Homo sapiens: one gene and its partners. The protein of the gene in region 2 interacts with the protein of the main gene of each other region in a biochemical or structural test. Each region holds a gene or a part of one and is shown on either strand. Other genes may lie near its edges.

Region 1 (7,556 bases), on a different chromosome or scaffold from region 2:
TATTTTAGTGTAGGTAATGCTTAGTAATTTTCATTTACCATTTACAATTCATTTTGATTACGTGAACCATTTTTTTAAGTTTTAATCAGTCTTGCTTGTGACAAAACCAGAGTCAGGAAATTTATCTGATCTTTGATCTGTCACTAACTTGCAGGGTAATTATCACCAAAATGTAATTGCTAGTTTTCCTCAATTTTTCTACTTTTAGAGTCAGTGTGAAAGTACCATTAATGAAGTAGGAAATTATGTTTTTGGTAATTGGTTTCATCATTGTGAAATGTAAGTGGTTCTTTTACTTCTCTTATCTTGACCTAAAGGACAACAATAATCTAGAGGAATATTCTACATATTAGTTGTTATTTTATGTTGTTATTTTGTGTTCTGCTAGTCCCATGATATAACAACTCTATAGTCAGGATATTTTAACTTTTAAAATATTTTCTAGAACCTTAGATTTTCAACTAGTCTTTAAAAAAAAAAAAAAACAAACTTGTCTTATAGATTGGTGGAAGTTGACTATTCTTGTAACAAAAGTTTAAAGCTCTGGTATTTCCTTCTGGTCAAATGTTTATTAATGTGAAATGGAAGGAAATTTGAACCATTTGAACCATTCCAGAAAGATTGTTTCTTGGATATTATTTTTCCCTGAAAGGGAAACTCACAACCTCTTATAGGTAAAAAGAAAAGTCTCCTTATACATATGGCCTTTGTCAAGAACATAAGTTTCTTTTTTTCCCTCTTTTTTTAGGGTTCACTATCAGACTTTCTTAAGGCTAATGTGGTCTCTTGGAATGAACTGTGTCATATTGCAGAAACCATGGCTAGAGGATTGGCATATTTACATGAGGATATACCTGGCCTAAAAGATGGCCACAAACCTGCCATATCTCACAGGTAGACTAAATTTATATTGTTTTCCCAGATAATTGAGTATATATTTACTAAACTTTTAAGCCCCTGGGTAAATTTTAATTTTTCCTTTGTTATGCAATCATGCTTTACAAGACAGTCAGTTTTCATTTGTTTTTTAAAATTAGCTTTGAGATTGGCCAGGAAGTATTTTGGATAATGTATATGTTAACATTATTGGTAAAGTTTAATGATCTACTTCATCTCATTTCTGAAAGCATGATTGAAAATAAACTATATTTTCTCGATCTCAAAGGAAAAAGACATTTGTTTTACCTCAAAACATGATTTATCAATAGGGATTATTATCCAAGGGCATGTAATGAAGGAGAGACTTTGAATGTCTTCCTTGCTTGTTTTTTGAATGACCTTATCTGTACCCTGAGCCAAGTCTTAAAGGGAGGCATCACTTAAAACAGTTGTCCAGTGAAGAAATACTACTTAGACCCAACAGTTGTCATGCCCGCAAAAGGAAAAATGATTGTGTCTTAAACATGGAATTCAGTTTGCCATGTATTTAATTTTCTTGAACGTGGGATTCAATTTGTTGTCTTGTGTTCCATTTAAAGATGGTTGTTTGAAAAGTAGGCATTAACTGATTCACAGAACAGATACTTAGCTGAGTGCCACCAGGCGATGTTTTAGGTTGCTGGGAGGCATTATTGTAAGTCAGCCTCTAATTTAGGTTCTGATTTTGCAAACTTTAAATGACGTCTACCTCAGAAATAACTCTTCTCACTTTCTTACATGCAGTCTATTGGCCTCGTCTTCGATTTTCCCTTGCCCTACCTGGTCACATAGGGAATTAATCCTTAAGGACCCCCAAAGTTATTAAGGGCCTGAAAGTCTTTTGAAACTAAGATCGATTAGCTTTTATAGCATTTGGGAGTGTCTGCTTGTGCTTTCAGTATCCCATTATTGGTCTATATGTCTGCACATAAATTTAACCACTAGTCATTGGCATAGATGTATTTAACTAGGGTATAGTAATCTCTAGGATGAGCCAGTTGAGACAGGTGTGTAGAAGAGGATATCTTACTGCCTTAAAACTGTTACCCTTTTCAGAACACCAGGATCTAGCTAGAGCAGTGTATGTTTATGGTAAAAAGTTTCTGTTATTCATTCCATAAGATGCTTTTCTACAACCAGGTGGAAGAATATAAGAACCTCTATAATAAGGGATTATTCTAAAATGTAGGTCTCTACCAATAAGCAGAAGGCCCCAATTCAGCTATTTTTTAAAAGTTTCTTCATTTTGGTTTAAAATTTCTGTTTCTATGGGAGTTTGCAAATCAGAACTCTGAGATATTAACAGTAGTTTTATGATTGGTAGGTGGGTGACATAGATAACATATCTTTTTGGTATGGCAGATTTTTATATAACTGCTTTATAGGTAGGATTCCTTCTTATTGTCCATGTTATGAATAGGGGTTTGTCACCGTGCTCTTGTGTTTAAGGCTGCATGGGGCTCTGAGCTTTGTTTGTCTCACTTTCTCTGCATTTCATAATTTTAAGTAACTATTTTTTCATAGTGTACATATTCCCCCTTTTCTGCTTTCAATAAAAAATTTAAAAAGGTAACTAGTTTAAACTTAATTTGAATACTCTTTTTATTTGCAAGGGACATCAAAAGTAAAAATGTGCTGTTGAAAAACAACCTGACAGCTTGCATTGCTGACTTTGGGTTGGCCTTAAAATTTGAGGCTGGCAAGTCTGCAGGCGATACCCATGGACAGGTAAGGATGATGATTATAAAATGTAAGAAAAAATAAACTTGTTCCATATTTTCTTAGAATGGCATGTCAGGACTGAATTAGTCTAAAATTGTTGTGGTGTTTAAATCAGCATCTAATAGAGTTATCAAAGTTTCTGAGGAAGACATTTTCATATGATGGTAGAGGACTCAGGTGGTTTAGATCAAGCACTTCGTAAAGCAACCCTTAGACACACGTCATAGGATTCTTTTTGAAAAATTGATCAAAGAATAATCCACCACCTTTTAACAGACCTCATTCTTAGGGAATTCTTCGTATGAACTCCGTAGTTTTAGTCTGTTAGTTCTTTCACCATCTTAAGAAGAGTGGAAGAATAATTAGTCACTGTCCTTACTACAGTGTATTAAGATTTCCTGTCCATTTTCCCATGCAATAATAGTTTATTGCTTCTTGTTGTTTATTGCTTCATTAATTTCTTTAATCAACTTGATGGCTTTTCTCCAAATTCTCTCCAGAGTTCAGAGCACTTGTAAACCCCTGAATTAGGTAACTCTTCACACCTCTGTATATATCCATATGCACAGAAATCTTAGTAATGGGAACCTCTAGGAAGGCCAAAAGGGAAAAGAACATTATCCATACAGTTTATTCTCAGAAACTTTGAGGCTGGAAAAGATGTTTTCATTCCTGCAAGATCACCTTTTATTTTTATTTATTTATTTATTTTTGAGACAGAGTCTCGCTCTGTCACCCAGGCTGGAGTGCAGTGGCATGATCTTGGCTCACTGCAGCCTCTGCCTTCCAAGTTCAAGTGATTCTCCTGGCTCAGCTTCCTGAGTAGCTGGGATTACACACATGCACCACCATGCCCAGCCTAATGTTTGTATTTTTAATGGAGATGGGGTTTCACCAAGTTGGCCAGGCTTGTATCGAGCTCCTGACCTCAAGTGATCCTCCCACCTCGGCCTCCCAAAGTGCTGGGATTATAGGCGTGAGCCACCACGCCCAGCCAAGATCACCTTTTAATCAGGGAAACCAGTTCAACCTAAAAGGTGACATTTTCTACAAAGCTAAATGGTTCAGGCCTTCGACATTATCATTTCTTCATCTTTCATATCATGTAAATTATTTGGCCAACTAATTCTTAGGTTTCTTTTCCCCAGCATATCCTATTGGTTCCTGAGGACACGTTTTTAATGTCATGGCACCACCAATTTTGGCAGTATTGACTAACTATTTAAGAATGTAGTTTGGGGTAATGGTCAGTAGCCATATAGCTCTAGAAAAGTTGACTGCAAATGTGTATGGGAATGGAGGCAATTTTGTGGAGAATACTACCAAGATTGTGTAGGAAGCCTGAGGACAAACTTCTAAGCTAATTGAATGATAGACTATCATAAGACTAAATTCTGGGAACATATTCTTAATTTGGTACCTCATAAGCCCTCCCTCATTTTTTGAGAAAAAAAATTTCTGACTCATTCATGTCATATTTTTAACTCCTTCACAACTGGGTTTTATGATTAGTTAAAAATTATTGGCTTACAGTAATGACTCCTTGACTTTAGATTTCATGGACCAGAAAATTTCAGAAATATTTGGAGGGACTTGCATGTTATTGCACATTTTATATAGTACAAAGAACACATATAAAAGAGGGAACATTTTATGTCAACATGGTAAATAAACCATAATCTTACAATAAAAGAGGTAGGTACCTTGGATGGCATACATTTACCTGTAAGAGAAAAGTAGGCTTTAGGGAAACATTCACTGATAGCACAATTAAAATAATTATTCTGAGTAGTAAATTTTTTAAAAGTAGAGCCACTTTTCCCTTTAATGTGTTCTCCTTGAACTTTAGTCTTAGTGATCTGTCTTTATTCTTAAAAAAAATCTTTACATGTATATTTGCATAAATTGCCCAACTTTTAGTCTAGAGTAGAGATTATAGCCACCTAAGGATGGAGCGTTATGGACGTACCAATATCTAGACTACTCTCTAGTTCGAATACATCGCAAGTATGTTGTGATGTACCCAGCTATCTCACAAATATTTTTAAGCATTCATATATGAATGTTGTCAAGCACCAACCAAAGCTAGCTGTACTAGCTTAGTAACCATAGTTACAGTACTAAGAAATACCAAATTGTTGGGGACAGTTATAAATAAAGGACTCCAAGACAGAAGAATTTATGAATAAACAAATACATAGATTTTGTACAGATAGAACTTTTTAACATCAGTCTGTCCTTTACTTAGCTAATTCTTTTTATAACATTTTATTAGTTTTTTTAATACAGAGAAAAGACCTCAAAAAAAGTTTTTTTTTTAAAGCTACATTTCAAACAGTATGCAAAGGTACAGTTGAAAAGTATGCAGCATCCTTCTCCCAGCTGACAATTGGTTCAGTTTCTTGTGATTACATCCAGAAAGGGGAACATAAAAACTTCTAAGTCTGTACCAGCATAATGTCTGTTGATATATTTTTTAAGTATACGCAGAAAGGATCTTTCTATTTATACGCTATAGTGTGTATACCTTACCCTGGTAATAGACCACATTTGGTTTTGATTCATCTTACAAAATCATATGTTAGTTCATAAAGTTAATGAATGAGTACTCTTTGCTTTTAACATCTTTTTCAGGTTGGTACCCGGAGGTACATGGCTCCAGAGGTATTAGAGGGTGCTATAAACTTCCAAAGGGATGCATTTTTGAGGATAGATATGTATGCCATGGGATTAGTCCTATGGGAACTGGCTTCTCGCTGTACTGCTGCAGATGGTAAGGGAAAAAAATATTTTTAAAAAAGATATATATGCCTACCACACATATATGAAAAGGGATGATACACTCCAAGGTAATATTTTAAAGTACAGTTTTTTTTTAATTGACTCCAAGAGATGGTAGAGAATTCAGGAGGCAGGGGAGCAGTGGGTGGGGTAGGAGAGGAAAGGAATTGCTATGTATTGATCCTTTACCATTACTAGCTATGTTGCTGGACACTTCACATACCTTAAGGTTATTTCCTAAAACGGTTTCAGAGGTAGTTATTATGCTTTACATATGAGGAAATTGAGATGCAGAGAAATTAAGTAGTTTGCCTACTTTAGCCTCAAACTGGTGAATGATGAAACCTAGATTTGAAACTCTGATCCAGACATAGGGAGAGGTCTGCTTTAAGGTCATATGGGTCCTGCCCCCCAGGTTAAAGGGTTTCTATTACTTGTTCTTGTTATTGAAGTCCATGTTCAAGTCTTATAGATATTTGCTTTTATTTATTTATTTTTCTGGGTAAATTTTCAGACGATATTTCCAGTGTGACAGAACTATTTTAGTGTTTCAAGCACTGTCTTTAGTACTCCTTCATAAGGTCTTTACTCTGTCTTCAAGTATGTTGCAGCATTTTTTGTTTTGAATAATATAAGGCAAACTTGCCGACTGCTAAACTCCTAAACAGATGTAAATGAGCTTGATCTGTTTCTTAAGTTCTAATTTATAATTGCCTAAAAACTTCCTGTGATTGTCAAAGACCATAGAAGAAATTGTGAATATTTTAAGTTATAACCAATGTAACCTATGTTACTAACAATATTTTATTTTCTGAGTACTGTAATAGGCTCTCGTTGTAGGACAGACTGCCACTGGAATATGAAATTCAATATAGGGTACTATTAAAGGGAATTTAATAGAGTGTTCAGAAATGGGCATTCTTCCAGGATTGAGGGATTGGCTTGGGAGTCAATGCCAAACCTAAGAAAAGTTGAAGCAATTTTGGAATAATTTCAGAAGTCTTTAGGAAGAAGCGTTAAGAACGCAGAGTGTTTTGACTCTAAGAGGAATGACATTTATGATGTGCATTTATGGAAGCAGAAGTAGGTTAGATGGCAGATGTTATAGGAAAATATATTTTATAAGAACTTTATTAATATGAACTCTCCATAACAAATCATTGGATTAAGTAATTTAGGAGACACAAGACCTTATTCTCAAGTAATATACAGTTTAGTTAGGGCAATAAAATATATCCTGGACAATTAACTCTAGAGTAAGTTAAGTGTGAGTTGTCTGGCCCATTCCCCAGTACATAGGTATTCAATAAATGTTTCTGGGTTAGTGCAATACTTAAGAAATACAAGCATGTGTTTTAGGAGTTTAGGGGAGAAATTGCTTTGTTTATGGGGAAGAGAGGTTTCAGAGAAGTTCTTTTGGAAAAAGAAAAGGCTAGATACTGACTTTTCTTAAATGCCATGAAATAATTTCAGAGTCAGGCATTTCTGACTCTTAAGTCAGAACCCAATTGTTAAGTCAGAAATTGGGGTAGAGAGGATAGTGTGAGCATTGATTGCTAAAGTAGGTGCTTTCACGTGTGTTGATGGTTACTTGTTTGTTAAATGAAGTAATTCTCAAACTTTAATGTGTCATACCAGATTCTTAGGAATCTTGTTAAAATTTAGATTCTGACTCAGTAGGTCTGGGTTGAAGCCTGAGAGTCTACATTTCTTAAAAGCTAAGCTACCAGTTGACGGCAGTGTTGCTGGCCTGTACACCACATAAGTGTTGAATAGACACCTTAGAATGTCGGTACTTTGTCACTGGAAGTACTCAAGCAGAGACCAACTGTCCAGCCATAGATAATTCTTATATTTGAAGAGGGTTAAGTTAGATGACCCCTTTATGATTCATTGTATTCTACCCAGGAGTATTTAGTGCATTTCAAGAGCTTCACAAAATTTGTGTTTATGCACACATACATCTATCTGGTCACTGATACTGCTCAGTGGTGACCTGTGTCTGTCAAAGGAAGGCAATCCAGTGATTAAAACCAGACTTCAGAGTTATTTAGAGAGTTGGGTTCAATTCCAGCTCTACCGTTTAACAGCTGTATGTCTTTGTGCAAATTATGTAACTTTTCTGAGCTTCTTAT
Region 2 (8,179 bases):
GAAAGTCATTGTGGAAACAATAAGATTGATTGTAGTATTGATCTCCCACGGGGATTAGATTGGGATTCAAAATCTTCCAAACCAGGCCCAGATCAACTATAAATTAGAAAGACTTTGGGGCCCTGGGCTTTGATTTTTCAATACTATCTCTGAAAACTCTGCCCTTGGCTCTGTCTACCCTAAAACCCTGGCTTAAGCGGCAGATTTATAGAGCAAAAGCTTCCAAACAGACTTAAAGAAATCTCAATCTGCCTCCCTTTTTCTCCTTTTCCCTCTGTGGAATTCTTGCACGTTTAGCTGACTAGAGGCATGCCTTTTGCCCTCATCTTCCCCATCACTTGATTTCTCTCCAATTCTTCCAGGAGGAGTAGCTCTTCTGGCTGCAAGCCAGGAAGAGGGTGCGGAGTTACTAAAGGGGAATCCCTGGCTCCCCCACCACACAAGCAGTGAGTTAAAATCAGATTCAGAAACGATAGTACAGAAGCAAGAGTGGAAACGTCCGCTGGTGCCCCGGCCAAGCTGCCTCTACAGGGACGGCTGCAGTCTGCCCACGGTGGAGGGCTTTGCAGGGTGACTCCCCGCCCCCACGCCCTGCTCCATGCCTCACCTTCATGGTGGAAGCTGCGCACAGTGTTGGCTCGGCTGGCTGCCCTCTCCAACCGGTGGTCTGGGGCGGGTGAGCCCGGCTGACCTGAGTGCCTGCGATACAGGTCTAGCATGTAGGGGGGCACCACGGCGTCCCTGCTGGGGGTGGGTCTCTGTTTCAGGCCGAACATGCTGAGCAGCCGCAACTCGAACTCGCTCAGGACCTCGTCAGAGGGCTGGGATGAGGGGCGGCCCGACGACGCCGCCGCGAACTTCCTGCGGCCCAGCTCCGGAACGAGGCCAGCCGCGCCGCCCAGGAGGACCTGGGGAAGCAGCAACGCTAGAAGACAGCGGGTCCCGGCCACCATGGTCGACCTGCGGACAGGACCGACGTGAGTCACCCGAGTTCCCCGCCCAGTCCTCCCCCCTCGCGCCCCCGCGGCCCGGTCTCCCATTTGGCTGGCGTGCCTCCTCCAGGATGCCCTCCTGGCTTGGCACACTCACGAGTCTAGGTAAGACCGACCGAAGCTCAAACGTTTGGGATAATGAAGGGTCCCAAGTTCCTGAACCAGATGATTTATCGCTCCCATCCAACGCTTAGCTCGTCTGACATCAGATTTGGGATTTGCCCTCCCCCCCAACCAAACCAGCGCCAATGACTGTCACTTTTTTGTGTGTGACACAGCGCTGACAGCCAATGCCGGGAACCTGGGAAAACCACCGCTTGATCTGACACCCTGCGTCCCCTATACAAACCCAAATGCGGAGTGCTGAGCGCTGTCTGGCATATAAACACACATAAATGGTGCATGTGACTTCCTTAGAGGCACTGTATAGAACTTCCTGACACACACACACACACACACACACACACACACACACCCTTATAGCTTCCAGACCCTGTAAGCTCAAGGCCACAACTTCTGAAGCCACTTATGACTTGTGTCCCAGGCCCCTACCCTCAGGGGTGTCTCGAAAGGCAGCTCCATCCCGCATCCCCACAGTGCAGTCAAGATACACATGTATCTTCCCGGGATTACGTAAATGGTGAATATCTATTAATGCACGTGTCAGCTGTTAAAAACACAGTACCAAGTGATCCTTCAGTACTGACCCCTCGCATTTCTGGAAACAAGTAGGGAGAACCCCAAACTCCTAGTACTTTCCTAAATGGGACACGGCTCTGAGCAAAGAAACCAAGTCTCCCGGAAACACTTGAAGAATGGAGATCACCATGGCAGAGCGGACAGGTTCTCAGCTAACGGGTGAAACCCAGGGGCTACCCTCTCAAAGGGATTTCTTTGACCCAAAAAAGTTTTTAAAAAAATTAAAAATAAATAAATAAATAAATAAAACACCTCATCTAAGTGTTAACAGCTCCAAAAGTATTCCAGGGAGAGGGGAAGAAAGAGGGGTGGAAGAGTGCGGGCCGGGAGGGTGAGGCTTACGGTCGCCCGGGGCAGCTGGAAGTGGGAGCCCCTGCAGGGCTCCGTTGCACGTGGACTGGAGAGGGGTCTGTTTACTTCTGGCCTGGACGTAAGGAAGGGCTCTACCGCAGTGGCTGCCCAAATCCCCCTCCCACCCACCACCCACCCCGGGCCCTGGCCCGCGTCCTCTACCTTTAGGAGACCGCAGTCCGTCTAAGAAGCACGCGGGGACACGTCCATTGAAAGAGCGTCCACATGGAAAAACTCTGGTCAAAGGACCTGGCGCAAGGACCGAATGTCCGTTCCTTTTCTTTGCCTCCTCCTTCTCCCGGGTGCCGGCCGCGCAGTCTCTCTTTTCACGCTGGGAACAGCGTCTCAGTGTCGGGCAAGGCCGAGGAGTGGAGGGGCGGTGGGGCTCGGAGATGGCGAAGCAGGCTCCGCTGGGGCAAAGGCACCGGCGCAAAGTGGGGTGCGCAAGTTATTCTCCCTGCAAGTTCAAGAAGTCCCCAGCCAAGTGCTGACACACAACAACAGCGAGCAGGGGGAGGAGTGCGGGGCAGGGAAGGGAAGGGAGAAAGGAGAAGCTGGTGCTGTCGTCCTCCTTAGGAACCAGCGCCCGAGGGACGCGTGGCCCCGCGCGGGGCCGGCTCCGGGACTCGGGGGTCGAGGGTCGGGCGCTCCGCGCTAGCTCCGCCGCGGCCCATGGCTCGGGGCAGCCATCCTGGGCGACGCCGGGTCCAGGGAAGGGCACGGCGGCGATCTCGGTGCCAGGCGAGTTGCCCCCCCGCATCACTCTGCCTTACTCCAGTGCACCCCCATTCGCGCTCGCCAGTTGAAAGCACCGCGGCTCTGGCGCCCCGTCGTCCTCGGGCGCATTCTCCGGCGAGTCGAGCCGAGTCCCGGGCCGCCGAGGCGGGTGGCTGTGCTCTCCCCTCGCTCTCCTAGCCCTGGGGCCAAGTGCCCTTTGTGGCTAGCCTGGGGTCCGATCACACCTCGGCCAGCGCGTCCCAGGCCCCCGATCTCCTGCAGTAGGTGCTCCGCATCGCGGCGCTAGGGATCGGCTCCGGAGTCCCCGGCGCTCTGCGCGCCCGTCCGCGGCTCTGGCGCAGCCCGGGCAGCAGAGGCCACGGCGCTGTGGCGCGCTCTGCCGGGTGCTCCAGCCCGCGCGGGGTCTGCGGCGCGCGGGTGCCTCGCGGTCCCCGGTGATCCACTCGGCGCTGGCCCCGAGAACGTTCGGGTAGCCGGCGGAGGCTGTGGCGGCAGATGTGCGGCGGCGGCTGCCAGTCCCCGGCGGGGTGTGGGAAGCGGAGCGACTAGCGCAGCGCGAGCCGGGCGCAGCGCGGCGGGGCGAGGACTCCGGCGGCGGCGACGGCGGCGGCGGCGCCGTGGCGCGGCGCTCGCGGCTTTTAAAGGGGACGCCGCCTGCCGGCTCCCTCCCGGCCGCGGCCGAACACCTCCCCCTTCGCGGCGCGGCTCGCCGGGGATCCCCGAGCGGGCGGGAGCTGCGCGCAGGGGTGTGGACGGCGCGCCCGGGCAGCCGCGGCGGGGTGGGGCGGAGGGCGGGGGCGCGCGGCCGCCAAGGGGGGCGCTCGCGCCTCCACTCCCTGCTCTCAAAGGAGAGATCAGCTGGCGCGCCGGACCCTCGCGGGGACTCTGGAGGCGAAATCCAGGACAAATGCAGGGTCAGGGTCTGGCCTCTTATTTCCCCGCTGGGCCCGTTATTCAACTTTCAGTTTGAAGTTTTTCGGTAATATACGATTTCAAAAAACAAAACAAAACAAAACACCTCAATTACAGCGTATTTTGGCATAGCATAGACGTGGGATCCACGCTTCTGTTTCCCCGGAATAGGAGGAAAATTAAAAGAAAACAGCAGGCTGGAAATTGAGTGTTTTTAAACATTAATACATAGAGATGTATGTATTTACATATGTAAATGCATGTGTACAAATTTTTTTACATAAATGTGTATGCATTTATTTTCATATCCATACGCATGTAAATTTATAGTTACATAAATATATCCAATATACAAAAATATGTGCATATATTTCTATAAATATATTCATGTATGAGAATATATGCAACCGAAGGGCCACATTTCGGTTAATATGTCTATGTATGTGACATGGATGTCATCCTGCTTTACGTGACATGTGTGTAACGTAGACTGCGTGTGTGGCAGACTGAAGGATGGATGGGAGGGATTTGATTTTTTTATTGTACAATCACTTTGTGCCTTGTGATATTTATCTCACCCAGCTCAGAGGCAGGCGATTAGCAGCTCAGAGGAAGGTAAAATAACGCACTGTGTGAACCAAGCATACAGGACAATTCCAGTTTGGGACCTTGGAACCTTCTACGCCACCCTCTTCCACCAGGCCCCCAAGAAGTAGGGCTGTGACACGTGGCCAAGTCACTCCTCAGCTGAATATTCACTGAAGTCACTCCTCAGCCGAAATACTGCTCAGAGCTGCTGCACGATGAGTCTGGGGCCAAGGCTTTCTGCCCTTCCCAGGATTCCAGGAGCCCCCATGCACAGCACCTCGGGCTTGCCCAAATGATCCCCAAAACCAAGGGCAGAAAATTTTTGGAAAAGGCCAAGTTCTGCTTTCCCAGAGCTATCGGGCCTGCGAAACAGAGAGAAAAAAGTCAGAAGCAGGAGCTGGTAATAGAACTATTATCCATGTGTATTATTTTTTCGGTAGGGGAGCTAAAATAATACTAGGTTCCGCTCACGTAAATCGGATTAGCAACCCACAGAGGCGAATTAGGCACTTGCTGTTTCTAAAGGTATAAAGGTCAAATAAGGTATTTTGGAGGAAGCCTGACTACCAGGAAAATAAAAGGGGGTGGGGGAATTATTCAGGAACATGCTACTTTATTTCCTGAAAAAAAAAAAAAAGGTGCTATAGAAGTTGATTGTCACTCAGAGTCATTGCACCGCAAACAAGGAGGCAATAAAACATATCCTACTCATGGACACAGGGCTTCTGAAATTATTTCCTTTCCTATCAAGTTTAATTGAGAAGTTAACAATTGTTTCTCTCATTACTTAGATTTCAAAAACAAAACAAAACAAAACTTCAATGAGATTTAAGTAGCTTTTAAAGAGGAGGAAAAGTTGATAACTATTGGATGCACCCGAAGAAAAAATAAATAAATATCCTGTGATGACCTCAAGGATGTCTTGCAGCTTTAGAACTTCATAACCTGGTAAGTGGAAACCTTGTCAGTTTAGAATCTGAGGGAAAATGGGTACTTCTGAACACTGTTTCATGTTAGTGCTGCCCATTGCAGAATCTCTTTTATGTAGGGTGTATGATTTCTGAGGAACTACTGAATGCTTGTTCCAAGCACAACTTACATAAATTTTGGCCCTATTTTTTTTTTTTTAGAGATGGCTGCCCTCTTGTGGTGGAAATGAGTTCGAACGCTTGAAAGAAAGAAGTCCATAAATAAATAAATAAATAAATAAGTAGTCTCCAGAGACTGATTTGGGATCGAAGTACAGGATGACTGTACCTACCCGTTTTCCAGGGAAGAGCAATAGTCAGAAATGATAAATCTAAATACAGACGAGCTATTTCTTTTTTTTTTCTCTCTCTTCACTAATGGCTACCTTCCACCTGCAACTTAGAATGCTGGGTTATTTAATACTTTGGGAGAGTGTCTGTTTGCCTTGAAAATATCACTTGCAGCTAACCATTGTCAATTCTACCGTTTTCAAAGGTCCATTCAAAGTTTTTCAGTTCAGAGGGTGAGATTCAGTCTTGCTGAGTTTATCAGACTTAGTGCATCTGCCAGCAAATGTGGAAGGGGCAGAGGTGGGAGTGGGGAGTTGTTTAAGATAGGGATAGTAGAAGTTGCAAATTCAAATGCATCAGAGGGTACAGACAAGTTATGTAAAAAAGCAAAGATGACCAGATAATGATTCCACATAAAGGAGGTTGTTGCTATTCCATTTCAGTCATCTCTTGGCAGTTTCTCAGGAGATAGTGGAAATTTGCATTTGATTGTGTGTGGACAAGACTCGGGATGAAATTAACTGCTTACAGTCATACTTTAGCAATTTTAGCACTTCAGCTCACATGATATTCCATTTTATTGCATTCTGTAGCTATTAGCATTCAGTATTGTTCTTGCTAGGCCAAACATTATGCAAATCAACATTAAAATAGTGATCCCCATGTATTGTAAAGTTCACAGCAGGCATTACGTGATCCATCTACCTTGTAATTGTCATTCCATGGAAACCTGTGGCAACTGCCCTGAGAAACCCTCTTTGCTTTTTAGCATACATATCGCTTTGTTACAAGGGTGACACCCATAACCATCCCTACTTACTTTACCTGGATGAAGTTTTTTTTACAGGAACTTGGAGCCAAGGCAAAAGAGAAGCATTTAGTCAATCAAATGTTTTCCTTTTTGGTGTTTGATTAGACATGGTAGAAAGGATGGGAGAGGTGGAGTGATTTATATCAGAAACTAGGCCAAGTTGGCCAAATCAGGATCACTGCTTTCAGCAAGTACCAACTACATCTTCTTAAAAATTAAAAAGAATGAATTTTGTGCATTGATTAGACTGTCACACAGTTTAAGATGTACACCTTAAGTTATGTCTGTAAACTATGTTGATAACACTCTAAGATGTAGTTGGGTGACCTGGGTTCTAATTCCTGGTTCTGTCATGGATGACTGACTTTAAAATGGTCATTTCATCTGTTAATTGGGGTAAATAAATATATGTTTGCTTGCTTCAGACTGACATGATGAAGGTCAAATGGATAACATGTGTGAACTTAGTTTCTGATTGCTACTCACTCTATGTATCTTCAAATGTATTCTTTGGCCTTCTGTCTGCAATATGGCCTGGTTTTAAGAAATAGGACTTTGGATGCCTTTCTTCTCCTCCTCTTTCTCCTCCTTCTCCTTCTCTTCTCCCAGCTTTTATTATATTGCCAAACAGTGGATATTTCATCAGAAAGGCCACCAGTTGGGTCAGTCAATCTAAAGCAGAGGTCCCCAACCATTTTGGCACCAGGGACCAGTTTTGTGGAGGAAAATTTTTCTACAGACCAGGTTGGGGGTGATGGTTTCAGGATGAAACGGTTCCACGTCAGATCGTCAGGCATTAGTTAGGTTCTCATAAGGAGCATGCAACCTAGATCCCTCATACATGCAGTTCACAGTAGGGTTTGAGCTCCTATGAGAATCTAATGCTGCTGCTGATCTGACAGGAGGCAGAGCTCAGGCAGTAATGCTCCCTCACCTGCCCCTGGGGGTTCCTAACAGGCCATGGACAAGTACTATTCATGGCCCGGGGGTTGGGGACCTCTGATCTATGGCAGTAACAAATTCTCATAGCCTCGGCTCCCTCATGAATACTCTATAGAGACTAACAGTTGACTTCTCATGGAGGTTGTGAAGAATAAATGAGAAGATATGTGTGAAGACAACAAAAGGTTGCAAATTTGTATTACTATATACATGCAAATTAAGGCCATCGGTTCTGGTTCTCGAAAGATGTGAGTTTATCTTATGTGATTTTCTTTTGCACTTGGTAGATTTCAAAAATATGGGTTGAATGAGCACATGCTTCTGGAAAATGATTATAGTCTTCAAAATAAGACTCCCCTGAGAAGCCTGTTGGCTTTTTAGCATGAGTAACACTTTGTTACTAGTGCAACACCCAATACCGGTTCTGATTACTTTACCTCCATGAAATTCTTTCATGGGAACCCCGGGAGCCACAGCAAAAGAGCAGCATTTAGTCATTCAAATGTTTACCTATTTTGCATTTGATTAGACATAATAGGAAGGATGAGTGGAGTGGGGTAATTTATATGCAAAGCCTAAGCCAGGCCAAATTGGCCAAGTACGATTGTTTTAAATATCCACTACATATTATTTAATTATCATATACTAATACATTTGCATACCTTGTCAATGATATTAAAATGTTTTGACTTTCTGTTAAATAGACTGTGAAGAGTCAACTATAGTATTTCCTTTTACATACAGTCTACAAATATTTATTGAGCAACTACAAAGCCCACGGCACTATGTTATTGGGCTCCAGTTAATACAAAAGTACATAATCTCTGCACATAATTTACTTAGAATTCAATGGAAGAAATGCAACATGTTTACGGGTAAATACATAT
Region 3 (7,556 bases), on a different chromosome or scaffold from region 2:
GTGTTTAAGGCCACAGGGAGGGAGACGCTAGGAAAGATGCCTGAGGCTGGGAACGGTGGCGTTTACCTGAGGACCAGGCGGACCCCTTTCACCAGCTTTTCCAGGTTTTCCAGCTTCACCCTGAAGGGAGAGAGAGAGATATCCCAGCTTCCTCAGAGACGCAGTAGCATAGTGGGGGCACCCCAGAGGGCTTCCCTCCTTCCAGCCCTCCATGCCTTTGCCTACCGGCTCACTCATCTCCCTCACCTCCTTCAGACTCCACGTGCCTGGATGCCTTTCATGGGTCACCATTTATTCTTTTGGACACATGCATAGCCCATGGGCAAGCTCCTCTGTCCTCACCAGCCTCCAACTTCCCCTGAGAGGCTTTTTCTCTCCTCTCCTAGGTTCTGCTGACTGTATGTGCTCTCTCTAACCTCAAGAGACTTTTACTGTCTAATGCAATTCATAAAAATAGCACAAGAGTGCCAATTCTTGTCTCTTCATTTCGTTTGCATCCTTTGTAGACATCCTGACTCAGGCTGTGCTTTTTCTAACTCATTTACAATTAAGATAATGCTGGGTTGTTGAACGCTTCTTTCTTTGTTTTTCCTTCTCTACATCTTTCTGCCTTGTATTTTTTCTCTCCCTTCTCTCATTTCTCAATTTCCCTTCCTGGGGCTAATGATGTTTTAATTATTTGTCTTCCCCTTGGATCCAAAGCGGTCCCCAGGGAACTTGCCAGCACAGTCACAGTGGCCATATAGATAGGAGATGGCGTCAGGGTTTGGGACTGCCCAGTCTTGCTCCTCAAGATACCTCCACCCTGGGTGCCTCCCTGTCACTCCCCAAGCACACACCCTCTCCAGGCCCTTTCAAAGGAGGCAGCTCCTCATTTGTCTACTCGTGTATACTCACATCATCACCAGGCTTTCCAGGGGGACCAGGAGGACCACGGGGACCCATGGGACCCTACAAACAAAGGAAGATAGTTTAAGAGATGGTTATAGTGGGAAGACACCTAAGCAATGGACAAAACTTTGACATTGTAGTTTTGGAAGCCAGTTCTTCTATGAAGAAGAAAGATGGGAAGGTCAGAGCAAAGGTGCAGAGATCATAGTGGGACGCAGCAGATAGCACAGGCTGGGGTGACCCGGAAAGGGGGCTGTTAGGACAGAGTCCCTGGTGGTCCTTGCCACATTGGGCTGTCTGTCAGAGTTCCTCCACAGCTAGGAAGTGACATCCGAATTTCCTTGGGGCCACCGACTGTGGGAAAGAGCTGGGCAGAGCCTGGGAGGGACAGCAGCTGCGGTCCTAGTGGTCTATCATTAGAGGCTCCCCCAGAGAAGGGACAGGGCCGTGCTGGTACTCACAGAGACACCAGGTTCACCAGGTTCACCAGGATTGCCTTGAAATCCTTGAGGCCCCTAAAAAGTAAAATGAGGATACCAGGTCAATCCCTATAAACTGCTAAAACATCATAGTGCTTGGGAATCATCTGCGACACGATGGAGGCAAAAAGAATTGCAGATACTTACAGGAGCACCTGCAGGGCCTGGAGGTCCTCGAGGTCCCATGGGGCCCTGCATCGGAACAGAAAATGAGGGGTTTACTACACATGCTTCCTCAGTGGCCTCCAGTGTGCCATCTTCTCCCAGCCAACAGCCCGGGCAAAGGACAAGAAGTTACTCTGTGGGCAAGGGGCCTAGAGTGGCTGCTCCCTCTCATTTCCCACTCCCCACGCAACACTCTATTTTTATTTATAGGCACCATTTGGACAGAAAAGCTGGCCTTGCTTTCTCCTGGACAGCAGCCATGTTTACTAAAGGCTGAGTTTCATTTAGCATGTGCCAAGTCAGAGCTGCGGGCTGAGATTTCCTGCTGGAAGTCTGTGGATGCTGGAGAACAGTAGCTGCTGTCTGCATTCTTCAGTTCTCATTCCAAGAGCAATAGCAACTGGTCTTCTAACAGATCAGCCTATATGCATCTCCCCATCTTCATTCTTCTTAGTCACTCCAGCGCATCATTAAAAGTGGCATCCATTGCCATTAAAAACCAAATGCTTTGGGCTAGCTGAATGGGAGGTTACATAACTACGGAGGAGAGCCACTCTAAGCAATTATCTGTAAAGCAGAGGTTGTCAGACTCTCTGGCTCTGCTAAGGGCCACCTCCTGCCATTTTGGCTGCAAAGAACTAGTGTCTTTTCTTACCATTGGTCCTTGCATTACTCCCAACTGGGCGCCACCAGCCTTTTCATCAAATCCTCCAGCCATCTGGGCAGCAAAGTTCTGCAAAGAAACCCAACAACGTTAGGAGGTTGAAAGGCACTAGGTCTTCCCTACTTGGCTAGGTAAGCTCTATATGGATACAAAGAACTCTACTGAGATAAACTCTGATTGTTGGAGACTAACCTATCATTGATCAGAATTACCACTGATGCCTGGAAAGTAATTTTGGGAATGGATTATTAGATGACAGTGGCAAAATCATTTCACTGGAAGGGAAAGTGTTATTTGAGGAAGTATCAGTTCCTTGCATTTCATTTTATAAAATTATTTTTATGCTCTAAAATATGACAGATGTTATTTAACGTATATGGAGAAACATAACCAAACCTTCTAAGGGTGTTCTTTATTCTTTAAGACTTTAGTGCCCAGCAAAAGACTAAAATCAACAGTCTTGGAATATTTCAGCAAGAGATGTAGTAGGCATCTGTGATCCCATTTGAGTTTAAGAATTTAAAATACAGCAAACATCAAAATAGCAAACCTGCAAAAACTAGGCAATCATATAATTTGTTGATTGGTTTGATTCCAGAATTGACTTTAGCCACACACCTTCACTCAGTGGAGCTCTTTCATGAGAGTGAATAGTTGCTTGGAATGTACTTGGCAAGAACCAAGGATAAATGTCTTCCAAGGACAGTGGTCACTCGTCTTCCAGGGAAATACAAGTGCCCAGTCATCCTTCCTCCTATCCCTTACACCCACCCCCCAGCATCAACTACGTGGTACAGATGCCAGGAAGCCAGGTAACTGAGGACTTTCTTTATAGAATCCCAGTTAGTGAAAAAAGCCAGCCCTTAGCACCACAGTCTCATGCCTAATATGTGACTCTTCTAAATTACAGGCCTGAGGGCAAAGCCCATGGACAGGCTATGTACACACTGCTGGCAGCCCTGGGAGCCAGCCAGGTAAGTGCAAGCAGCAATTTAAAAGCCACATTTCTGGAGGGACAGCCTGAAGGAATGGGAAGTAAGGATACTTACTCCACCAAGACCAGGGGGACCAGGGGGGCCGGGAGGACCAGGGGGGCCAGGATTTCCAGGGGTCCCAGGTTCTCCATCTCTGCCACGAGGTCCAGGGGCACCCTTGGCATAAAGAGAAAAAGGCATCAATGGGAAGCAGTGTTTCTCCAAGAGCCATCTGTCCCTTGGCTGCTCTTTAAGAGGTGACCAGGCCCTTAAACACATGGTGGGGCCTTGGGGGACCTGGGAAGTCCACCAGGGTCAAGCAGCATTGCTTTTTACTCACTTTTTCACCTTTGTCACCACGATCCCCTCTGGGTCCTTGTTCCCCTGCAGGTCCCTGAAGGTGAAGAACATGGTAAGATGACAGCAAGGCCAGGAGCCTGCAGATCAGTAACTTGCGCGCAGCGAGGAAGGGACGGAGAAAGAGATTTCTCCCTCTCTTACCTGAGGCCCAGGAGGTCCTTTGGGTCCTACAATCTGTGAGAGAGAGCCCCACAGGATGGTAAGTTAGAGGAGAGCACAAGGAAATGACCCATTTAGAGCAGCAGCTGCAATACCGGGTGAGAATAATTTGCACTTACATCCTTGATGTCTCCAGGTTCTCCTTTCTGTCCCTGAAACATGAAACATTCACAGGATTAAGCCGAGTAAGCCCACTAAGCCCCTAGTCTAAAACCCTGCCAGCAGCCCCTGTGTTGAGGTACCCTCTGAAACAGATATCTTCTGATGTCTAAAAAATCACAGACTGGATTAACATAGCATTGCTTTTGAAGCAGAAAATATAAAGCCAAAAAAATATGAAAAAAGAAAAAGAAGAAAGCCCTTACCTTTGGTCCTGGTTGCCCTGCAAGGGAAAAAATATAGAGAAGAAGAAGGTAAGAATCTTGAGATGGAAAAATACCTATTCTTGTCACTCAAACACTCATTAGATCAAACAAGTAAAAGGACACAATCAAGGAAGGCGGCAGCTTCCTGTGACTCCACTGAACCCCTCTGTTGGGGTGTTAGGGCCACTGTGGCCCTGGGGTTGCTGAGGTCCCATGAGGAATGGAGGTGACCCAGACTTTGTTATTCAAAAAGCAGGCAGCATGCAAAAGAAAGGAGCAAGGGCAGCACAAAAAGGCAATGAAGAGCTCAAGATCTAATCAGCCACAAGAAGGAAAGCACAGATTCAGTCTCTCTTCCCCCCACAGGGTAGGGAGCCGTTCCCGAACCCCAAGCCCTCCCAGAGGAAGAGTTAGGTACTTAGAAAGGTCTTACATTAGAGCTGGGTCTCCTTGAAGCAAGCACAAATAAAAACACAAAAACAGCAAGGCATATGAGTTATGAAGAGCATCGGAGCATCATAGCCTGTGCCATCCCCAGTCAATAACCTCTCCTTCACAGTAGCAGCAAAATAGTAAAGGCAATCAACACTTCACTCACACGGGCCCCTCAGAAAGGATCTGGGAATCTGCACATTAGGGAGCCAGTGTTGGTGAAGTGTTAAGGAAAGGCAGCTTCTCACTTCCCTTGCCACGGCCTTCTCTACTTCAGCAGGAAGCGGACAGCAAGAGCTACCCAAAAAACCTACACAAGCGTCCCCACTCACTCTGCAGGGAGATAGGACATCTGTATGAATGCTGGGAAGGGGTCACCTGCACATATATCATCCACCAGCACTGGATCTAACTGGGAGTTTATAACCACCCACTACAGTGCAGATACATGGGGCTCTGTCTCCACCCGTCCCCACGAGAACTCCCAAAGCCTAGCCCTTCCCTCTCCTATTATTTTGCTTCTGAATTAATGGTCAACTCCAAGAGAGGTAATAGCAGAGAGGAAACTACCACCAATGTTCCATAACTCAAAGAGGGAGCCTCTGCCCCTGCAGTCTCCCCACTAGCTGGCAGAGCTTTCTCCACACTGAAGACCACATACATAGAAGTCTTCTAAGGAGAAGACAAGGTGTCGGTGGCAGAGGAGGAATTAATTCGTGGATTGGCCAGACAGAGCATTTGATCTCCATAGTGGCTCTAGTAATTTGCAGAGATGATTTCAGAGAGGATTTTTTTTTTTTTTTTTTTGTAGAATCACATCTGTCCTTCATGTGTCTTGGAAGCAAATGTTTTTGGAGATGTTGGGCAAAGAAGGACCCCTCTAGTGTCTCAGGCTCGTTCACTCAGTTTCAACCTGCAAGTGAGAAGTGGCCTTTCCTTTCTACCCCAGCTACCAGGTCCCATGGATAACTAGCCCCTCTGCTTTGCAGAGACGACCAGCATCTATGGGAGCGTGTTTGCAGTGCTTGCAAGTAATTTATTTATGTTGAACAGGAAATAAATAAATTACAACCACTGGCAGTGGCGAGGTCAGTTGGGCAGATGGGGCAGCACTCTCCGAAGGGGATCTCAGGGCTGAGGCAGTCTTTCACGTCTTCACAGATTATGTCGTCGCAGAGGACAGTCCCAGTGTCACAGACACAGATCCGGCAGGGCTCCGGCTTCCACACATCCTTATCATTATACCTCTGCCCATCCTGCACACAGCTGCCAGCCTCCTCTGCACCAAGGGTGGGGAGGGAGAAGCAGAGAGCCAAGGGAAGGAGGGGGTGGGGAGCCAGAGAGAAAAAGAGAGAGGTTGCAGTCAACTTGACAGAATTCAAATGCTGAAGAATGTAGGCTGGGGCCACCTGGACATATAGAACTTAAAAATTATTTTCCTAAAACATCATTGATTTTTCCATGTATTCAACAAATATTTATTATGCACCTTGCACCATGTTGTCTATTCACCAGTGAAAATCTTGACCCAGCAATGAAGGTGGGGGGTTACTATACTATATTCTCTTTACCCACCTAATACGGGGGAGACCAGGTGATGGAGTGGGTGGAGGGAGTTGGAGGGTGAGCGGAAGGGAGGAGACAAGATATTCTGAATAGGAATTCTGGGACTATAAAAAGAAAGGAGACAGAAAAATGGCGAGACCTCCCTTCCACCAGCCCAGGAGCAGAGAAGTCTTCTTTCTTCTGCCTTCCTCTGGGAATTATGGGATTAGCTAAATACAACTGACAACTAACATTCAGAGGGAATGTAGAAAATTCTACCTACAAAAATTGGAATCTATAAGCAGTGAGGCTCCAAAAATAGGTATATAAGAAAGGGGGGTGAAAAGACGAGCTATTAGAATTAGGATCTTGTCTCATTCTTTGAACCATATTAGAATTAGGACCAATTTGGGGAGGGGGATAGACCCATTCAAACAATACACTTGGGGCTTGGGCAGGCTAATAAACTGCTTAGGAGGCCAGTGGAGCCAAAGCGCCCCCAGTGCTGACCTCCACCTGTAGCCCTGCCTGGAGAGGCCCTGCCTCCATCTGAAAACAGCACCCCAGTTTGGGGAGCAGGGGTCGTTGAATACCTGGCTAGGGCTAAGATTGGCCAGTCCAGGCCTGGCCTCCTCCAAGACTGCAGAGGAAGAATAGCAGGGACTAGTCTCCTCCACCAGCGCCCTGCCGTCTGGAATTCATGCTGCAAATGAAACCTGTGCTGACAAGAGCGCTCCTTAGCAGCCAAGGGCTGTAGAGCCCGCACCACGTGCTAGGGAGCGCCCAGCGCTGTTTTTCTCATCAAAATCCCCAAGGCAATAGCAGCAGCAGGGGATGAATAATAGGAAAGAGCCACAAACCCAGAGGGCGAGAAAGAAACGAGCCTGCCCACTGCTCTTTAAAGAGAGTGAAAATCCAAAGATAAACTTTCCTTTTTACTTTCCCACTAGAAGAAATCCGCCTAGCCTTTGGGCAAGATAATCACAGGAGGGTGAGGGATTCCAGGGAAAATACAGAAGTTGCGGGGACACACCCGCCGTTAAAATAGCTGGAGCAGTGGAATGCAGGCGGTGAGGAAGGTGTGGGAGAGGGGGCATCGGTTAATGCGCTCCAGCCCAGACTACAGGAGAGCCCACCCTCGCCCATGAGGACCCAGGGAGGAGAGGGGGAAATGCTAGGAGAGGGGCCACTCCCCGTGCGGATCAGATTTCCCGGGGAAGGGCGGCCCGGGAAGCGCCGGCGCAGGGGCGGGGCCAGGCTGCGCTGGGTGTAAGAGCCGCTGAGTGACTCTGTGGCTGCGGCTCTGGACACGGCTCGCTCACAGACACCGGGAGAGTGAAAAGTGGGATTAAATGACTGCCCCAGAAAGGAGCCAGCGCCGTAACCGGATCCCCTAGGTGTGGACGGAGGAGCCCAGCACCACCATAATTGCTGCTCCAAAACGGCTGCCGATAGCATCCCGGCGCGCCTGATCCGGTTCCCCTCATTACCGCAGGGCCGTATAAGTGATTCTTTGTGGCAA
Region 4 (7,833 bases), on a different chromosome or scaffold from region 2:
ACTTCTAGTGAAAGAAGTCAAACATGAGTCCAGTGAAAAGAATTGTGGCACCGTGAAAAAAGTAAAGTCTCAATTCCATAGCCATCCTAGCCTCACTTTCTATTTCTGAGCATGGTTTTTCAAACTCTCTGGGCCTCATCCTCTTCATCTTTAATATTATTAATGTGTGTGATGACATGCTAAGACTCTTTCAATCCTAAGTCTATGATCTGCTATTACACTATTCTTAAGTATTTTCCTTGAGCTACTGCATCCACAAAGAATCAGTATCACAAGTTAGAGGTAATTTGGAAAAGAACCAATCGTCCTACAAGGATTTCTTGAGTATCTATCACATACCAGGTACTGTGCTGGGCATCTGAAATTCAGAGAAAAAGAAACAAGGGACACTATCTCACCTCAATGAGATAACAGTCCAACAAGGAAGCGCCAAGCAAGTAACCATACAGCACAGAGGTGGACACCGAAAGAGGGGCACTCAGAAGCCTGAGAGGCAGAGGCAGTGGTGAGGGGGCTTCTGAAAATCAGGAAGGCTCTGCTAGGTTGGAGTAGGTGACAACTGACTTTAGATTTGGATGATAAATACGATTTGAGTGCTCAGAAAGAGCTGGAGGAGGTGCTATATGTGGCAAAAGATAAGCACATTTTAAACTGCCTTATACTTTTAAACAAATAATAATAAATCAGCATTTACTGTAATAAAAATACTTTATCAGGCCATCTCACACAGTTCCCAAAGCTTATGAGGAAAAATTTAAGTCAATTTCCTTTTAATAAATATTATTTAACGACTGGAACATTTAGAGAAACATACATAAGCAGGCCGTGGCAGCACGTCACTCAGGGACAATAATCTAACAGGGAATTTCAGACAACCTAGCCTAGACTAAATGCTGGGCAGCACCTGGCAGACAAGGTGGCAAAGCCCCTATAAATAGTGATGATTCACTAACATGACATAAATCAAGATTTTAACTCACCAAAAACTAACATTTTGATTTAAAAACACAAATCAGTGCCATTAAAATTCATCAGCGGCCCCTAGCACATGAGTAATGAGATCATATCAACTTATATCATGTAACTAAAAGGAAAAGGTGGTTTTCTAAATGGTAATTCAGATTGGACAAATAACACACTGTATCAAGTTTTGTAGCTCTAGGCCATATTTTGCTAAACACAAAGGTACATTATGCATGACTAAAGAAAACAGTGAAAATCAGAGCAATTAATTTCCCAGCTATGTTTCCCATAAAAAGACATCACTACTATGATCTGCTTATAACACAAACTTTTTTGCATTGCACAATGATCTAAGTGTGTAATAACTTACATATTTCACTAAGATGTAACATCCTTCAAAACATCCTTATAATGAAAGTTTTCCAAAAACATTATTGATCACCGGCATGTCTCATGTTTTAAAATTACTGACGAATCCTTTACTATTTTCTTTACAGCTAGAAATAATTCTTCTTGATCACTAGAGTGTAAAGGGGTATAAAGTACAAAGACTGAATATTTTCTTAAATACTAACATCCCAGTTGACACAGGACATTTCCCATAACTTGCCCAAAACAATAATTAGGAGAGTTGTCACTGGAATCCTAAAAATATATGTAAGAAAACAGAGATTCGTTGGCATCAATTTAGCACAGCAAGAGATTTCCATTAAGTGCTTTTTCAAATTATTTGCAAACACTTTTTAGCTGAACCCTCTCATTTCCAGTGGAGCCTTTTATGTTTCTTTGCAGAACTCAAGAACCTTTTCTCAGGTGGCTCTGCTTTGCTGCAGGTAAGTTTGGTATTAACACATTTTCTTTATCTGTTGGAGGTAGTGAAACGGCTCTCTTCCTCCGTTGTCTTTCACTGGCACCTTTGTGGCCGCTCGTAGTCACTGACCTCACCTTGCTGGAAAGGTGGCTAAGAAAAGAGCAGTTTCTAATAACTCAAGGGAACTGCAGCGTTTCCATTCAGAACAAACAGCAGGACCCAGCTGGAGGGGTGCAGCTCTAAAGAAGTAAGACCCGCACCACAGCGGACAACTTCCAGAGGCTCTTCTCCAACACCGCCAAACACAGGCGGAAACACGGAGCCTGGACAGAAAGAGGGACGAGCAGAGAGATGGGCGCAGAGAGCAAGAGACAGGGGAGCCAGGAAGACCGGGAGCGAAAGCCTCTTGAGAGAGAGAGAGAGACCAAAAGATTGTGCGAAAGTGACAGAGGGAAGAGGATGAAGGGACAGAGGAGGGACACACTGGGAGAGCCAGAGCAGGCGGTGGGGAGAGGGAGACAGACGCACGGAAGGAAAGAGAGACCGGGGGGAGAGGCAAAGGATAGCAATAAGGAGAGGAAGGGAGAAAGGAAGAAAAGGGAGAGAATGAAAGACCCAGAACTTGAGAGAGAGGCATAGAGAGAGAGAAGCAGGAGAGAGAGGAGAAGAGACAGGCAACTGAAGCAGAGACGGAGCCCAGTCCAAGGCGCCGGGACCAGCCCGCTGCGCACTTTCCCCCACGGCAAGGCTGGGTCTCGGGAGGCGTCCGGGGCAGGTGGGTGCCTGCGGGTCCCGCCTGGGCTGGCCCTGGGCCCCCGCCCCGCCGGGCTCCCTCCCATTTCCCGGATTCCGCGACTGCCCTCAGCTCGCCCTCCCGCCCCATCCCTCCGCTCGCAGGTCCGACTCCCTGCCTTGGGGCGTCCCTACAGCCCGAAGCACGTGTCCCGCCCGCCGCCGCCGCTGCCCCGACTCCTCGCCTGCGCAGGCACGAGGCCTCGGGGTCCCGGCAGAGCCGCCCGCGCACAAAGCCGAGGCGGCCACCGCCTGACCCCCTCCCCGCCGCCGCCACCGCCCCACGGCCGCGCAGCCCGCCCTCGCTCTCGCCCTCTCCCTCGCGCGCTCCGTCCTGCCTAGGGCGACCGCCGCCCAGCTCCGCACCCAGCCGCTACCCGTCCCGCGCCGCCCCTCGCTCTGCCCGGCTCTCGCCGGCTCGGCCGCCTCCCGCGCGCTCGGGAACTCGGCCACCCGCAGGGGACGGGGCCCCGCCGCGCGCGCCTTACCCGCGGCTGCGCTCCCGGCTCCCGCGTCCTCAGCGCCGCGGTCTCCGCACTGCCCGGCGTCCCGCGAGGCCCCGCCGACTCCGCGCCCCGCGCCCGGCTGCGCCGTCAACTTCTGGCCGCCGCGGCCGCTCCGCCGCCGCCGCCGCCGCCACCGCGGGACTTTTTTTTTTTTTTTTTTTTTTTTTCCCTCTCGCTCCTCGGCTGCCTCTGGAATTTTTTTTTTTCACTTGCCCTCTCCAGCTCCCACTAGTGATTGGAGACTGAGAGCCAAGTACTTAGCGGAGGGATTACACTTCTCAACGCACTTGGAGCGGCCCCAGCGCCGCCGCCTGTGTGCGGAGTGCGGAGCCGACTTGGGGAGCGGCGGGGTGCGGGCCGGAGGCAGCCCGGGTACAGGGGTGCGCTTCCCAAGCCCCGTCCGCTGCTCAGAGCATCCCCAAGATTTCCCTCATGGGTCCTGTCCTGGTTGTTTAAGAAGGTTTCCAGAAAACCTCCTGGTTTGAAGAACAAAGATTCGTGGAATTATTGTACCTTGAGAGCTGGAAAGGGCTCGCAGAGATGATATAATGTCGTGGATTTCAACTTTTCGGGGCCATAGACACTTTTCAGAAATTGATAAAACGTTGACACACCTTGTAAAAAATGAACACATTAAAATTAAGCCTGCAGTTTGAGGTGGGGGTTTTAAGAATCTTGAAATATATACAGTTGAGCGTCCAAGGGAAATGAAATATTTCCCTTCTACATATTTTTTGAAACCGTTAAACGAAAACAACCACCAAAAAATTAAAAATAAAAAAATAAAACCCAAAAGAGAAAACCCATTCCATTTGTATTTGATGACAGTTTACAGTTAGTCGTGTTTCTTTTGGAAAAGTATGTAACGTCTTATACTTTGTGGTCTCCTTGCTAAGTCTTTAAGTGTTGAAACACTTTCTAAGTGGGTAAATATAAAGTAAGCTAGTTCACAGTCAGAAATTTGGGGAGAATAGTTAACCTCTTTAAAATCAGCCATTTTGCCAACTCTATTTCCCAGGGAGATATCTCGTGACTTCCAAATACTCTTTTCCTTTCAATACCTTTCAGCTTCCCACTCTCCAGCATTACTTATTTTCTCCTTCTGTAAAATTTTTTTCCTCCAAAATATTGACAAACAGTCTCTGGTCACCACCAAGTGTGTGATCTAAGTCATTTTTTTTTTTAACAGTTTTTCACCCTGAAGTAACTTTCTTCCAATTTTCTTCATATCTATTTCTATATTCAATTCTTAGCCTACTATTTTCTTTCAACTACTCCCTTTTCTTAAATTGTTTCTATTAAATCTTTTTTAAACATTAAATGTAATCTTTTTGCACTTATCAATAAAAAATTCATTTGTGTATCAATTTATTTTATGCAGCTTGCACTTAAAGCAGGCGGTGCCCCCAGTGTTTATTGAGTGTATGAAGATGTGGTCATGTTTTTTCTATAAAAGCAATGTTAGAGTCTCCACAAAGGTCTTTTTGCCCCATGATATATCTGCATTGTGATTTCTAATGCCAAACTGGAAGAAGAAAGGTATCTGAAAGAAAATTTCCAAAACAAGTGAAATTAGTCATTGACATCATCTGACCTTCCTTATTCAACCACTGTTCCAGTCCCCAGTACCAGTACTCATCCTCTTGCCCCAAGAATTCCAAGATAAAATCCATTCATTTTACTCTCATCCCAATTCTTCTCTGATACCCTCACTCCCACCCCTTCCCTTTTCCACCTCCTTTCTTTCAAAACAATAAAGCATATGACTACCTAAATTACCTTCTACCTGGTCCTCAATCCAATTTTTCATCATCTCCATCCTCATATTAACTAAGTGTTTTGTGGGGAGAAGGGGGCTTGAAGACACGGAAATTATAACTTCTACACCATTAAAATAAAAGACAAAGCAAGGAATTATGAGCTATTATGTAATTAACTAAAAATAATAAATTATCGAAAATGAAATGTGAGTTTAGAAATATGAGTTTTAAATATTGAAAATAAGATACCAAATTATAATTCATTACAGAGCTTATGATTGTATACATAGAAAAGCTTAGAGAATTTACTGGAAATCCATAGAACTAAAAATGTAATGTGTTGATCATTGTCAATATCTCATCAACATTAAGCAAGTTTAAAGAGGAAAGAAACCTGATTGAATCTATCCTTTCTACTGTGTGAATTACTGATAATTTGTATTTGACAGCTGTATAATCTCCCTTAGAATTGGAGCACTCATAAACTGCAGTGAAATAAAGCAGACATTATGCAGAATGTTTTGGAGCTAGTGGTATTGTCACCTGTATCTTTTCAGAAGTTGCACTAAGGATTATCTTTCCTTGGCTTAACTCCTCCATTCAGCAAATATCCTTCAGAGAATCTGCTGGGTATAAGATACTGATTCAGGGAATACAGGCATCTCTGGATAGAGAAGACACAGATTCCACTTCAATCAACTTGCAGACAAGGAGACAGATTTTTTTAAATACCTTGTTTAAATATATTTTTTAAAATTCCAAATCAGAGAACAAAGGAAATTCCTGTAGGTCTTTGGGATGAAAAAAAAAAAGCACTCCAGGTGGGAGAAAATGGGGTACAGGGGAAACTGTGTTTGAGGTGGGCCTTAGATGGTAACATTTCTGTAAGCAGGAATGGGGAGCCTTGGAAAGAAGCTATTCAAAAATCAACATTTTTGAGTGCCTATGACAAACCAAGTCCTGGTATTTGAGAGGCAAACTCTGTCCATTCCTTCTTGAAACTCATAATACAGAAGAAACAAGATACTTAAAAAATATATAGAACTTTCTATGAGAAGTGCATTAATGCATGAACACACAATTTTTGGAGCATAGAAAAATGAACTATTCTGCCTAGAAATCTCAGGAAAACCTTCCTAGAGTAGTCACATTTCATAAGGGTCCTGAAGGATCTTTAGAGATCAAAGCGGGGCTAGAAAGAGAATAAACATCCTAAGCAAGGAGAACCCTATGAAAAAGCATGGCGTGTTTAGAGAACAGCTGGTATCTCAGTGCTGCTATCCAAGTGATGAGGAGAAGGTGCAGCAGATGACTCTCTTAGGCTAAGCAGGGTTCAGAAATAACCTTCTCAAACATACTAATGAAATTGATTTTTTCCTTATTAGGTAATGGAGAAGCACTGGAGATTTGTAAGCCACGGAGTCAAATGGTGGACTGGGATTTTCAGGAGATCATTTAGAGGTACCTGGAGAGGGAGAAATGAAAGCACAAAACTAATTAAGGGTCTGTCATTGAAAGAAGGAATACTTGAACCAAGACAATGGTGTAACTACCAAGACAGCAGACTCAAAAGACACTTCCTATATTGCTAACTGTAGCCTTGGATTTTGGTGCCTTTAAAGGCCATAGGAGCCAGATGTGGTGGCATATGCATGTAGTCACAGATACTCAGAGGCAGAGGTGGGAGGATCCCTTGAGTTCAAGACCAGCCTGAGCAACATAGTGAGACCCCCACATGCCCACACCATATCTAAATAAATAAATAAGTAAATAGAGACCACTGGGGGGAGAAGAATAGAAAGGAGGGGCTTCATTGGGTGCATGACAAATTTTAGCAAAAGCAAGATTTTTTTCCCCTCTGCTTCTACATAAGGAAACCAGGGCAGTGTATATAGGACTCTCAAACACTTGCAGGCATATTTCCCATTAAGAAAGACATTTGCCCAGGCCCACTGGAATTGAACTATTTGGGGAATTTATAAGTAGAGAAATAGGACAGACCTGGGGACACAGCTTGCTTCTATGCTGTCAGCCTCCCCTTCTCCTTCCTCTTCATGGATATCCTCACTCCTACCACTTTCCTTTTCCACCCCCCTCTTCTCTCAAAACTGAAGGTAAAGGATTTGACCACCATTAATATATTGTCATAAATCAAGGCATACAATGCTAAGTAACATTCTAGAACATGTGCTTTTAAACTATTTCTCTCTAATTGTGGAATAAAAGTCTGCCTCTTTTCAGGTATGGTATTTTAGGAATCAGGTGAAGGAAATATTTTTCAGTGTAAGAAAGAGATCTTTTTCTTGCTCTTCTGTTCCTACTGCTGTGGTTGTCTTATTGTCCACTGCTACATGTTGACTCTACATATACAAAATAAGTGGTTAAGCCTCTCAACAAACAGAGTATTTAAATTTTTGCTTGTTAATATAATAACTTGGTGAAATGTGTACCTTCCATAATAAAAGCCACATTTATGGAGTGGTTACCATGATACAGGCACACTACTAAGTAGCTCACATTTATTATCAACCTGAGGCCTCATAATAAGGTATTATTTTATTTCCATTTTACAACTGAGGAAAGCAAGGCACAGAGAAGTTAGATAACATTCCCACGGCCATGCTAGAAATTGGAAGAGGCAGGATTTAAACATGAATTGTCTGGCTGCAGCATCTCAGTCTTAACCAGTGCACTAAACTGCTTCTATAGCACTGAGAATGTTTTTTGGTTTTTGTTTTTTGAGATGGAGTCTCACTCTGTTGCCCAGACTGGAGTGCAGTGGTGTGATCTCGGCTCATTGCAATCTTTGCCTCCCAAGTTTCAAGCGATTCTCCTGCCTCAGCCTCCCAAGTAACTGGGATTACAGGTGTGCACCACCACACCCAGTTCATTTTTGTATTTTAAGTAGAGACAAAGTTTCACCACTTTTGGCCAGGCTGGTCTCGAACTCCTGACCTCAGGCCATCTGCCCGCCTCGGCCTCCCAAAGTGCTGGGATTACA

Evidence for each region.
Region 1: the proteins of BMP2 (region 2) and ACVR2A form a complex in vitro, tested with the Homo sapiens proteins (3 studies listed by BioGRID and IntAct, with this or other methods).
Region 3: the proteins of BMP2 (region 2) and COL2A1 form a complex in vitro, tested with the Homo sapiens proteins (one study listed by BioGRID).
Region 4: the proteins of BMP2 (region 2) and BMPR1B form a complex in vitro, tested with the Homo sapiens proteins (3 studies listed by BioGRID and IntAct, with this or other methods).

What each region holds. Positions count from the first base shown.
Region 1 is NC_000002.12:147,917,699-147,925,254, forward strand, and holds part of ACVR2A (activin receptor type-2A isoform 1 precursor), read left to right. Parts: intron 1-748; coding exon 749-894; intron 895-2,531; coding exon 2,532-2,646; intron 2,647-5,274; coding exon 5,275-5,413; intron 5,414-7,556. UniProt on the Homo sapiens protein: On ligand binding, forms a receptor complex consisting of two type II and two type I transmembrane serine/threonine kinases.
Region 2 is NC_000020.11:6,762,901-6,771,079, reverse strand, and holds the start of BMP2 (bone morphogenetic protein 2 preproprotein), read right to left. Parts: upstream 3,395-8,179; 5' UTR 2,205-3,394; intron 961-2,204; 5' UTR 954-960; coding exon 608-953; intron 1-607. UniProt on the Homo sapiens protein: Growth factor of the TGF-beta superfamily that plays essential roles in many developmental processes, including cardiogenesis, neurogenesis, and osteogenesis. Induces cartilage and bone formation.
Region 3 is NC_000012.12:47,994,358-48,001,913, forward strand, and holds part of COL2A1 (collagen alpha-1(II) chain isoform 1 precursor), read right to left. Parts: intron 7,197-7,556; exon of another isoform or gene 6,628-7,196; intron 5,769-6,627; coding exon 5,562-5,768; coding exon of another isoform or gene 5,559-5,561; intron 4,075-5,558; coding exon 4,058-4,074; intron 3,845-4,057; coding exon 3,812-3,844; intron 3,708-3,811; coding exon 3,675-3,707; intron 3,568-3,674; coding exon 3,514-3,567; intron 3,351-3,513; coding exon 3,249-3,350; intron 2,269-3,248; coding exon 2,191-2,268; intron 1,563-2,190; coding exon 1,518-1,562; intron 1,407-1,517; coding exon 1,353-1,406; intron 952-1,352; coding exon 898-951; intron 121-897; coding exon 67-120; intron 1-66. UniProt on the Homo sapiens protein: Type II collagen is specific for cartilaginous tissues. It is essential for the normal embryonic development of the skeleton, for linear growth and for the ability of cartilage to resist compressive forces.
Region 4 is NC_000004.12:94,753,290-94,761,122, reverse strand, and holds the start of BMPR1B (bone morphogenetic protein receptor type-1B isoform b precursor), read right to left. Parts: upstream 3,169-7,833; 5' UTR 3,055-3,168; intron 1-3,054. UniProt on the Homo sapiens protein: On ligand binding, forms a receptor complex consisting of two type II and two type I transmembrane serine/threonine kinases.